Linked DNA regions of Homo sapiens. The protein of the gene in region 3 purifies or fractionates together with the protein of the main gene of each other region. This does not show direct contact. Each region holds a gene or a part of one and is shown on either strand. Other genes may lie near its edges.

What was found.
Region 1: the proteins of NEMP1 (region 3) and RGPD8 purify together in Homo sapiens (co-immunoprecipitation; 3 studies listed by BioGRID and IntAct, with this or other methods). This does not show direct contact.
Region 2: the proteins of NEMP1 (region 3) and RGPD2 purify together in Homo sapiens (affinity purification with mass spectrometry; 2 studies listed by BioGRID and IntAct, with this or other methods). This does not show direct contact.

The regions. Positions count from the first base shown.
Region 1 is NC_000002.12:112,388,638-112,392,290, reverse strand, and holds part of RGPD8 (RANBP2-like and GRIP domain-containing protein 8), read left to right. Parts: intron 1-1,221; coding exon 1,222-1,316; intron 1,317-2,043; coding exon 2,044-3,653.
Region 2 is NC_000002.12:87,823,544-87,827,296, forward strand, and holds the start of RGPD2 (RANBP2-like and GRIP domain-containing protein 2), read right to left. Parts: upstream 2,254-3,753; 5' UTR 2,187-2,253; coding exon 2,115-2,186; intron 1-2,114.
Region 3 is NC_000012.12:57,068,653-57,072,305, forward strand, and holds part of NEMP1 (nuclear envelope integral membrane protein 1 isoform a precursor), read right to left. Parts: intron 2,242-3,653; coding exon 2,022-2,241; intron 655-2,021; coding exon 582-654; intron 1-581. UniProt on the Homo sapiens protein: Together with EMD, contributes to nuclear envelope stiffness in germ cells. Required for female fertility. Essential for normal erythropoiesis. Required for efficient nuclear envelope opening and enucleation during the late stages of erythroblast maturation.

The DNA.
Region 1 (3,653 bases), on a different chromosome or scaffold from region 3:
ACCTGAACATTCTCATAATAGCTTCAATTTGCACAATGCAACCTCGTCATTTTGCAGATTTTCAAGGCTCACTTCAAAAACATGTTCCTTGAGGCCTATTAACATTTCTTTCCTAAATTGTCTATTCATATGGTGCTTTAAAAAATTAGATTACTTTTAGTAGATTTATTAGAGCCGCACAGTTTAGAGTCAGTAGTCAATTAAAGTCCCTACTTAAACTTCAGACTAAGATTTTTTTTTATTTAATATTTTATTTTTTCTTTTTGCTTTCATGCAGACAGACATCTTGCAAGACTTTAAGATTCTTGGGCCATTTCTGTCAGGTTGTTCTGTGTTCTGTGCCTGCTTCCTCCCCATAGTAATTTCAAAATAGCTATCCTCACCTCTGTAAGGTTTCCGAAATCAAACTTGGGCTTCTGGCTAGCCTTTTCTAGGTCTTGATTTTTCAGTGCTTTCCAGAGGCAATTGTTTGGAACCTCTTGGCACAGTTTCTGTTTCTTCTTCCATGTACAGGCATAAAAGGTCTTTTGGTTGTTTTCTGGTAAAACTATCATAAAACAGTTCAAGCAAATGACTATTGGTAGTTTTGTCATTAACATGGGTGCCTTCTAGTCATTTTGTTTCCTGGCAAAACAGACCAAACAGAGGGAGCAGACAGTTTGTACATCTGTATGAGTGTTGATGTGCTTTTTATTTTAAGCCAGGGAACACATTTTATGTTATTTATGACATCCTTTCCATGAATTTGTCAGGTGATTTTTGAGCTGAACATTCTCAGTAATAGCTTTAGTTTACAAAATACAACCTAGTCTTTCTGCAGATTTTCTAGGCCCACTTCAAATGCATTGACTATCAGATGGCATCTTGGTTCCTTACGTCCTTTCTGTGACTGAATGTCCATAATTCCACATCATACTGATCTTTCTTAGAAAAGGCAACAGTTACTATCTTCTTTATTCCTTTTTTAATGCTTGCGAGGTAGTTCTTGTTGATCACAGCGATGCTATTCTCTCATTCTTCATGTCATATTTAGCAATTTTTTTCTAGTTTGTCATTTGATAATCTTGATTGGTGTATTTTGATGTACAGAAATTTAAAATTTATGTAGTTAAATCTTTCTTTAATTTCTATTGCTTTTGTATTTATAGCTCTTGCCTAGATAGTCTTAACTGTAGTATAGACTTTAACAGTGTTTTCTTTCTTTTCTTTTTTTTTTTTCAGTTGCAACTACTGGCCCTTCAGTATATTATAGTCAGTCACCAGCATATAATTCCCAGTATCTTCTCAGACCAGCAGCTAATGTTACTCCCACAAAGGTAACAAAGGAATAATTTATACATTTATAATTATTTTCTTTTTAAATTGTTTAGGGTTCCTTCAAATAAATTCAAGAGAGCAGTTCACTATTAAAACTTTTATGTCCCTTAAAATGTAGATATTTTAAATTTATCTCCAAATACAGAAATTATCCTTCTCAGTCACCTTATTTTTGTGTTAATAAGTGTGAATATTTAGAATATTTTAAAAATGGGAGTGGTGGTGGTGGATCCTTCATCGTTCTGTTTTAACAGAAATAGAACTGTAATGCCCTTGCTGACCCACTATGTGGTAAGTACTTTCAGGCCTGATACAGCTATATATATAACAATTGATTGAAGACTCAATATTACAGTGGTAGTTGAATGTGACAGCTTTGAGGACAGAGTGTTGGGGTGCATTTAGACCCTTGCTCTTCTGCTTATTTTGACCACAGGCAAGTTTCTTAACCTCTCAGTGCATCAGTTGCCTTATATGTAAAATGAGGATAATAATAATACCTTAATTCATAGGGTTTTTGAGGATATTAAAATGAGATAATAATGTAAAGTGCTTAGAACAGTGCCCAGCTGGCACATTAATGAATGCTCAATAAATGTTATCATCATCATCATCATCATTATTGTTAACATCATTTGATAAATTGTTTAGGAATGAAGAAGGTATTTATTTCATGACTATTTTGGGCATGTGGATCAAGAAAATTCACCTTCATTTATGTTTCAGGGTTCTTCTAATACAGAATTTAAGTCAACCAAAGAAGGATTTTCCATCCCTGTGTCTGCTGATGGATTTAAATTTGGCATTTCGGAACCAGGAAATCAAGAAAAGAAAAGGGAAAAGCCTCTTGAAAATGATACTGGCTTACAGGCTCAGGATATTAGGGGCCGGAAGAAGGGCCGTGGTGTGATTTTTGGCCAAACAAGTAGCACTTTTACATTTGCAGATGTTGCAAAATCAACTTCAGGAGAAGGATTTCAGTTTGGCAAAAAAGACCTCAATTTCAAGGGATTTTCAGGTGCTGGAGAAAAATTATTCTCATCACGATACGGTAAAATGGCCAATAAAGCAAACACTTCCGGTGACTTTGAGAAAGATGATGATGCCTATAAGACTGAGGACAGCGATGACATCCATTTTGAACCAGTAGTTCAAATGCCTGAAAAAGTAGAACTTGTAACAGGAGAAGAAGGTGAAAAAGTTCTGTATTCACAGGGGGTAAAACTATTTAGATTTGATGCTGAGGTAAGGCAGTGGAAAGAAAGGGGCTTGGGGAACTTAAAAATTCTCAAAAACGAGGTCAATGGCAAACTAAGAATGCTGATGCGAAGAGAACAAGTACTAAAAGTGTGTGCTAATCATTGGATAACGACTACAATGAACCTGAAGCCCCTCTCTGGATCAGATAGAGCATGGATGTGGTCAGCCAGTGATTTCTCTGATGGTGATGCCAAACTAGAGCGGTTGGCAGCAAAATTTAAAACACCAGAGCTGGCTGAAGAATTCAAGCAGAAATTTGAGGAATGCCAGCGGCTTCTGTTAGACATACCACTTCAAACTCCCCATAAACTTGTAGATACTGGCAGAGCTGCCAAGTTAATACAGAGAGCTGAAGAAATGAAGAGTGGACTGAAAGATTTCAAAACATTTTTGACAAATGATCAAACAAAAGTCACTGAGGAAGAAAATAAGGGTTCAGGTACAGGTGTGGCCGGTGCCTCAGACACAACAATAAAACCCAATGCTGAAAACACTGGGCCCACATTAGAATGGGATAACTATGACTTAAGGGAAGATGCTTTGGATGATAGTGTCAGTAGTAGCTCAGTACATGCTTCTCCATTGGCAAGTAGCCCTGTGAGAAAAAATCTTTTCCGCTTTGATGAGTCAACAACAGGATCTAACTTCAGTTTTAAATCTGCTTTGAGTCTATCTAAGTCTCCTGCCAAGTTGAATCAGAGTGGGACTTCAGTTGGCACTGATGAAGAATCTGTTGTTACTCAAGAAGAAGAGAGAGATGGACAGTACTTTGAACCTGTTGTTCCTTTACCTGATCTAGTTGAAGTATCCAGTGGTGAGGAAAATGAACAAGTTGTTTTTAGTCACAGGGCAGAAATCTACAGATATGATAAAGATGTTGGTCAATGGAAAGAAAGGGGCATTGGTGATATAAAGATTTTACAGAATTATGATAATAAGCAAGTTCGTATAGTGATGAGAAGGGACCAAGTATTAAAACTTTGTGCCAATCACAGAATAACTCCAGACATGAGTTTGCAAAATATGAAAGGGACAGAAAGAGTATGGGTGTGGACTGCATGTGATTTTGCAGATGG
Region 2 (3,753 bases), on a different chromosome or scaffold from region 3:
GAGAATGGCGTGAACCCCGGAGGCAGAGTTTGCAGTGAGCCGAGATCGCGACACTGCACTCCAGCCTAGGCCATAGAGCGAGACTCTGTCTCAAAAAAAAAAAAGAAAACAAAATGTCTAAAATGGGAGAAAGGGAATTCAAAATAACAAAAGTATATGTGTGTGTTACTCAGAAGCATGAAGTATAGATGTAAAGGGCAGAAAAAAAAACTAACAGCTGTCAAAGGTGCCTGCCTGTAGTCCTAAGTACTCAGGCAACAGAGGTAGGAGGATCATTTATGCCCAAAAATTTGATGGCAGCCTGGACAACACAGCAAGACCCTATTCTAAAAAACAAATAAATAAAAATAAGAGCTGTCAAGTAGAGTTTGAGAAGTAGGAATCAGCTGCAGAATAAGAAACCAACTTGACAGAACATAGAAAAACTAAACAGAAGCCATCTGGAAAAAGAAAAACTAGAGAAAGAATTATATATTTTTTTATTTTTTTATTTTTTGGAGACAGAGTCTCGCTCTGTCACACAGGCTGGAGTGCAGTGGCGCAATCTCTGCTCACCACAACCTCTGCCTCCAGGGTTCAAGCAATTCTCCTGTCTCAGCCTACCGAGTAGGTGGGACTACAGGCGCTGCCACCACGCCCGGCTCATTTTTGTATTTTTAATAGAGACGGATTTTCACCATGTTGGTCAGGCTGGTCTCTCTGCCTCCCAAAGTGCTCGGATTACAGACGAAGAATATTTTTAAGAAGGGCAAAAGCACATGTGAGGGAGTAGAAAAATGGCAAAACAAGAGAAGATTAACAAATGAAAGCACAATGGAAGACTAGAAAGATATGATATACAGACGCATCATCACACTCCAAAACTCAGACATTCTAGAAAGCATGGGCAGTTCACAGATGGCCAGCCTCTGCCAAACTGGGGGAGAATACTAACCTCTTTATATTCTTCACAGCCACTGCCTCTTCTCCCTCCATTCCTTACCTTCTATCCAAAGCACCCTGTTTTGTCATTTCACTCAAACCTAACTTTACAGAATAGCTTCACATGTTCCAAAGTTACTCACTAGTTAATCCATATTCCGTTGAAATCCCCAGGTTCTAATGTAAATGACTTTAAATTTGGGGGAAAAAAAAAGACTCTAAGTGTAAGAGAGGTGAGGCCGAGGCCGAGGCCGCCGCCGCCGCCCGGCCAGGCCGAGGCCGCCGCCGCCGCCGCCGCCGCCGCCCGGCCAGGCCGAGGCCGAGGCCGAGGCCGCCGCCGCCGCCGCCCGGCCAGGCCGAGGCCGCCGCCGCCGCCGCCCGGCCAGGCCGAGGCCGAGGCCGCCGCCGCCGCCGCCGCCGCCGCACATTAACCTTTTAAGTTAAAGATTAAGAGAACCAACACCTCTTTACAGTGAAATGCCCCAACTAAATACTACCGTATGGCCCACCATAATTGCCCCCATACTTCTTACACTATTCCTCATCACTCAGCTAAAAATATTAAATACAAATTACCATCTACCCCCCTCACCAAAGCCCATAAAAATAAAAAACTATAGTAAACCCTGAGAACCAAAGTGAACGAAAATCTGTTCGCTTCATTCATTGCCCCCACAATCCTAGGTCTGCCCGCCGCAGTACTGATCATTCTATTTCCCCCTCTATTGATCCCCACCTCCAAATACCTCATCAACAACCGACTAATTACCACCCAACAATGACTAATCCAACTAACCTCAAAACAAATGATAGCCATACACAACACTAAAGGGCGAACCTGATCTCTTATACTAGTATCCTTAATCATTTTTATTGCCACAACTAATCTTCTCGGGCTCCTACGCCGAGGCCGCCGCCGCCGCCGCCGCCGCCCGGCCAGGCCGAGGCCGAGGCCGCCGCCGCCGCCGCCGCCGCCGCCCGGCCAGGCCGAGGCCGAGGCCGAGGCCGCCGTCGCCGCCGCCGCCGCCCGGCCGAGGCCGAGGCCGAGGCCGCCGCCCGGCCGAGGCCGAGGCCGAGGCCGCCGCCCGGCCAGGTCGAGGCCGCCGCCCGGCCAGGTCGAGGCCGCCGCCCGGCCAGGTCGAGGCCGCCGCCCGGCCAGGTCGAGGCCGTCGGTCTCTTCGAGATCCACTCACCTTTCCAGGCGACGGGGCGGAGCCCTGCACCGAGGCGAGGTACCGCTCCCCGTAGGCTTTGCTGCGCCTCATCGCACCGCCAACCTGGCTCCCGAGACGCGTGAAACCAGCGCTCAGCCCCGCAGCAGTCGCCAATTCCAACAGGAAAGCGCCTGAAAGCCACTGACGTAGCCGGCGGAGGACCACTGTGACGCACTTGTGTACTGCGTCAGCACTGTGTATCCTTGGCGACGTCGGCGCTCGAGCTGCACTCGGCCGGGCTCTTGGCAGCACCCTGTGCTCTGAGGGTGTCTTGCCCGCCGGGCGCCGTGGCTCACGCCTGTAATCCCAACACTTTGGGAGGCCGAGGCGGGTGCTGTAAACCATTCATTTGCTTATTTCAATATTTTCATTTGTATGCTTTCAGATAAGCTGAACTTGTTCCAATCTGCTATACATAGGTTTGTTTATATCTTTACAGTAAATATCTCAGTTAAGAATTATTTTCTCTTTGTAAAGACATTGTGACTCAGATACTACTTGTAAAGTCTATAGGAACACACAGCTAGTAAATGGCATAATTGAAATTCAAATGGAAATCTGATTCTAAAATATACTTGTAGCAACATAGCTGATTCCTGTTACTGTATCTGCTCCTGTAAATTTTGTAAATTCATTACAATTTTTAAAATATAAAATATTTTCATATATTTATTTAGTCTTTGCTACCATGAATAGCTTCAATGGGAATGATGATTAATTCTAGAATGTGCTTGTCTTTTACATTTCTATGATTTTTAGGGTTAAAATAAACCTTGTTGGTTTACAAATGATTCCTGAATGATTTCTTTCCTCTAAATGCTACAGCACTTCACTACAAGGTCTGCAAAGAAGCTATGTGGGGGAGTGAAGTAGGAGGTGACTGAGATTATGTAATTAAGTTCATATATGTCATAATTTTTCATTGTTCCCACTGTTTTAGAGAAAAGTAACAAAGGAGAAGACATGTGGGCGTGTAGAGAAATGCAAGGTGGAGATATTAATGCTACAGTATAATCTTCTGTGGGTGTTTAGCCTGGGGATGAGAAAACTAAGGAGAACCATGCCAGTTGTGTTGAAATATTTGAAGAGCTGTCATGCAGAAGAGAGAATAGACTTTTTTCTGTAGGCCCAGAGGGTATAACTAACATTAAGGGAAGAAAGTCATAGGGTAGAAAAATTTTATTCAATTTAAGGAATAACTTTCTAATAGTGCATAGTATTGGAACAGGTGGCTGCATAAAGTCCCACGAAGTGTTCATTCTAATGCTGAATACCCATGCACCAAGAATCCTGTGGAAATGATGCTTGCAGGGATTAAAGAATGAAGTAGAATCTAATCTAATATAGCCTCTTCCTACTAGAATGCCAAACTCAGAAAGACTTTCTCTCTGTTCTCTCTTTCTCTCTCTCTCGTGCTCTCTTTGTCTAATTTATCTGTATACCTATTTAATTTCCAAAAAATGAGATTGACAGGAAGTGTAAGAGTTAAAAAGAATAATGTGTGTATGCGTGTGCATGTGTGTGTGAAAAAATGGATTTTAAAGGTATTGGATGCCCGTTGAGAATGTTTATATTCCTCTACCCCTTGAGGTTTATGGTTAGCAAAAAAATAGTAACA
Region 3 (3,653 bases):
CCTCCTGGGTTCACGCCATTCTCCTGCCTCAGCCTCACAAGTAGCTGGGACTACAGGCGCCCGCCACCACGCCTGGCTAATTTTTTTGCATTTTCAGTAGAGATGGGGTTTCACCGTGTTAGCCAGGATGGTCTCGATCTCCTGACCTCATGATCCGCCAGCCTTGGCCTCCCAAAGTGCTGTGATTACAGGCGTGAGCCACCGTACCCAGAAGCTATTTGTTTCTTTACGTCTGAACAAAATGAAACTCATCAACCCATGGACCTGTAAAGATGACACCTTAACACATTACTTCTAGCAATAGAAAGGGTGATGATGTTCCATTTCATTGTATTGGCTAACTCCTATCAACCTAATGATGGGCCAACCTAATGTGGGAATTTCACTATTGTCAACATTGTTCAAATAAGAAAAAACAAAAATCATAATACACATTAAAGTATTTTTTTAAATATCCAAGCAGGCAACGGCCAAGCCATAAAGGTCCTGGAAATGGGAATGGCAGTACTTAATAGTTACTATAAAACGCAGGCAGGATAGGTATGAGCCGTTTCATTCTGCACACTAGCCTTGGAACCTACCTGCTCAGCAAGTCTCCACAAAAAAATAGCATAAGTCCAAGAAGGAAAACAAGAAAGAGTTTGGGATCAAATCCTGAAATAAATAAAGATTTTTGCTTAATAAGGGAACAAAACTGCTTAAGGTATTATAGAATAAAAGACAACGTTGGCACTATTGGTCAGCTACAGTAAAAATAAATGCAAACAGCCCACCTAAAAAGCATTTAAATTTCACCTAAAGCCTGGGCACCCTTCCAATGTATAATTAGGTCTCTGTCTAACCTGTATTTGCCTGAAGATCTTACTTTTACTTAGGCTACCTATGCTAAGGTTAAAAGAAACTCAAGCTTCGTTTTGGACAAAGCTAGACACAGTACCATCAGCAATTCATGCAATCACCCACAAGGGGTCTCTATCACTCTGGCTTTCAAGCTTTAAGTCACTCACAGTCATGGAACTCAGCAGATTTGCCCAGAACTGTGGGTCAGGGCCTTGTGTTGTTCTCTAACTGGCTGCTTTTCTTGCCCAACAATACCACCTACTTCCCTTTGCTACAGAACACTGTGCTGGAAAAGCCTACACGCAAATACCTCTCACTCAGGACCAGGGGGCCCTAGCAAAGGCCCCTTAGTGGCATACCAGATACTCCCACAGCTTTCACATTCAAGAGTTCTACGGGAGGCCCACAAACAGAACAGGAGCAGAAGGAATCAGTAACTGTAGAAGGAACGTCAAAAAACAAGCCAACCCTACGTAACCAAAGAACCCTAGGACAAATGGAAGGGCACAACCTATTTCATACTAAACCTAGAAACATTTCTACTACTTACAACATCCCAGGACCCTGTGTAGTAACCAAGGGGAAACAAAGTCAGAGAGAATTCAACAGGATCCATCTCCCCTGAAACTTTCTCAGTCATCTTCAGAAAAGAGAAAACTTCTCCCAGTTCCACTGAATAAGTTTTAAACTGCAGTGGTCTTCATCTTTATTTATGGTTCCATGAATACTCTTTTTACTTGTGAATGATTTTCAATTTTACCTTTCTTCAATTTTTATTAACCATTCACGTCTTTAAATGTAGGCATGTACACATCAGACAGTTACCTTTGTCTAGAAGTGTCCAGAAGGTAGAACACGTCTATCTGATTTACTCTAAGAGTATTTGGCATATATGCTCAGGGACATTAGCAGCACAATGTAATTGGGAATAAAAGAATAAAAGTCTTCACAGTTCCAGGTAAGGAGGTACTCAGAATTTCCTGAGGTGGAGTTTCAATTCTAGGCCTGTCTGATAGGGGTGAAGTCTCCATGAACTGTTTAGAGCAGTGGTATACTCAGGGTTATAATCAGAACCCAACTGGAGCTGTCTTAGGCTGACTTCTCAGTCTCACTAATTATACCCTTCAGAACTCAGTCCTTATCACTACAGAATCCATCAGAAAAACAGAGGTGAGACTTACTCCGGATCACAATGACACTGTACTTGGTGTCCTTCTCTATAATCTCAACTTTGAGGCAGGTTTTTGTGCTGTATAGACCCACGTTAACATAGGTGTCATTCAATTTCTCTTTTAAAAAGGAGGAAAAAAAGTTCCAGATACTAAACTGCTCTAGCTCCTTCAGTTTCTCCTCATTCTCCACCTGGGTGACTCGAACCAATCTGGAACTATTTACTCGGATCTGTAACACAAATAAAATCAGGATGAGAAAAAAGGAAGTAGGAATTTTAATTTTTCACAAATACAATTTTTTAAAAAACCCTCAGACTAACAACCAAATCAGTAATGGTGCCAGTTTTCCACAAAGCTTATCAGAAATATAGAAATACAGTGGCTAAAACATAATTGGGCAAATAACACTGCACATGTTACAGAGAGACAGCTGTTAGAATACCTTCTTGTTAACATGATCTGAATCTACTATTAGGGCAGAACATAGAGGGAAAAAAGACTTCCAAACTGAAAGAGTTATCAATACAGCTATTTATTAGAGATCACACAAAGCAAAGGTCTATAATATTAAGAAAATTGCCAGGCATAAACTGCCCCAGAAAACTAAAAATGTTTTCCGTAATGACAGGCTGAGTTCAATCCATTGTCACAAGCCACTGATTATGAGTAAATGTTGGTTATAATGTGCCCCAGATGGAGTATCACTTTTTTATCAGATAATTTTTTTTTTTGAGATGGAGTCTCGCTCTGTCGCCCAAGCTGGAGTGCAGTGACATGACTTCAGCTCACTGCAACCGCCACCTCCTGGATTCAAGCGATTCTTCTGCCTCAGCCTCCTGAGTAGCTGGGACTACAGGGTGTGCGCCACCATGCCCAGTTAATTTTTGTATTTTTAGTAGAGACGGGGTTTCACCATATTGGCCAGGCTGGTCTCGAACTCCTGACCTCAAGTGATTTGCCCGCCTCAGCCTCCCAAAGTGCTGAGATTACAGGCATGAGCCACTGCGCCCGGCTTGTCAGACATTTTTTTTAAAGAATTTTTTTTAAAAATCCACAAGTTGGCTGGGCATGGCCCCCAGCTACTCAAGAGGCAGAGGTTGCAGGGAGCCGAGGTCGTGCCACTGCACTCCAGCCTGGGTGACTGAGCGAGACTCCGTCTCAAAAAAAAAAAACAAATCCACAAGTCCACCCTTATGTTTTTGATGTGAACAACAAATGTCCTTATCAGTAACTATGCTTATAACAACTACGACATTTCTGAAAGGACCTATTTTGTACAATCACTGTTACAGCCAGACATTCCTGTTTGCCAGGTGACTTAACAGTGTTATGAAATAAATGAGACCAAAGTAATTCTTCAGCTCGGGGGTTTATGAAATATCTCATATAGAATCAGAATAGGAACAGTGGGGCAAAAGAGTTTACATCCTCACAGGCACATAACAGTTTCCAGCCCAAAGAAGGCATAAGGCCTTTAAAAAGAAAGAAGGGGGCTGGGTGCGATAGCTCATGCCTATAATCCCAACACCTTGGGAGGCCAAGGTGGGCAGATCACCTGAGGGCAGGAGTTTCAGACCAGCCTGGCCAACATGATGAAACCCCATCTCTACAAAAAATACAAAAAAATTGGTCAGGTGTGGT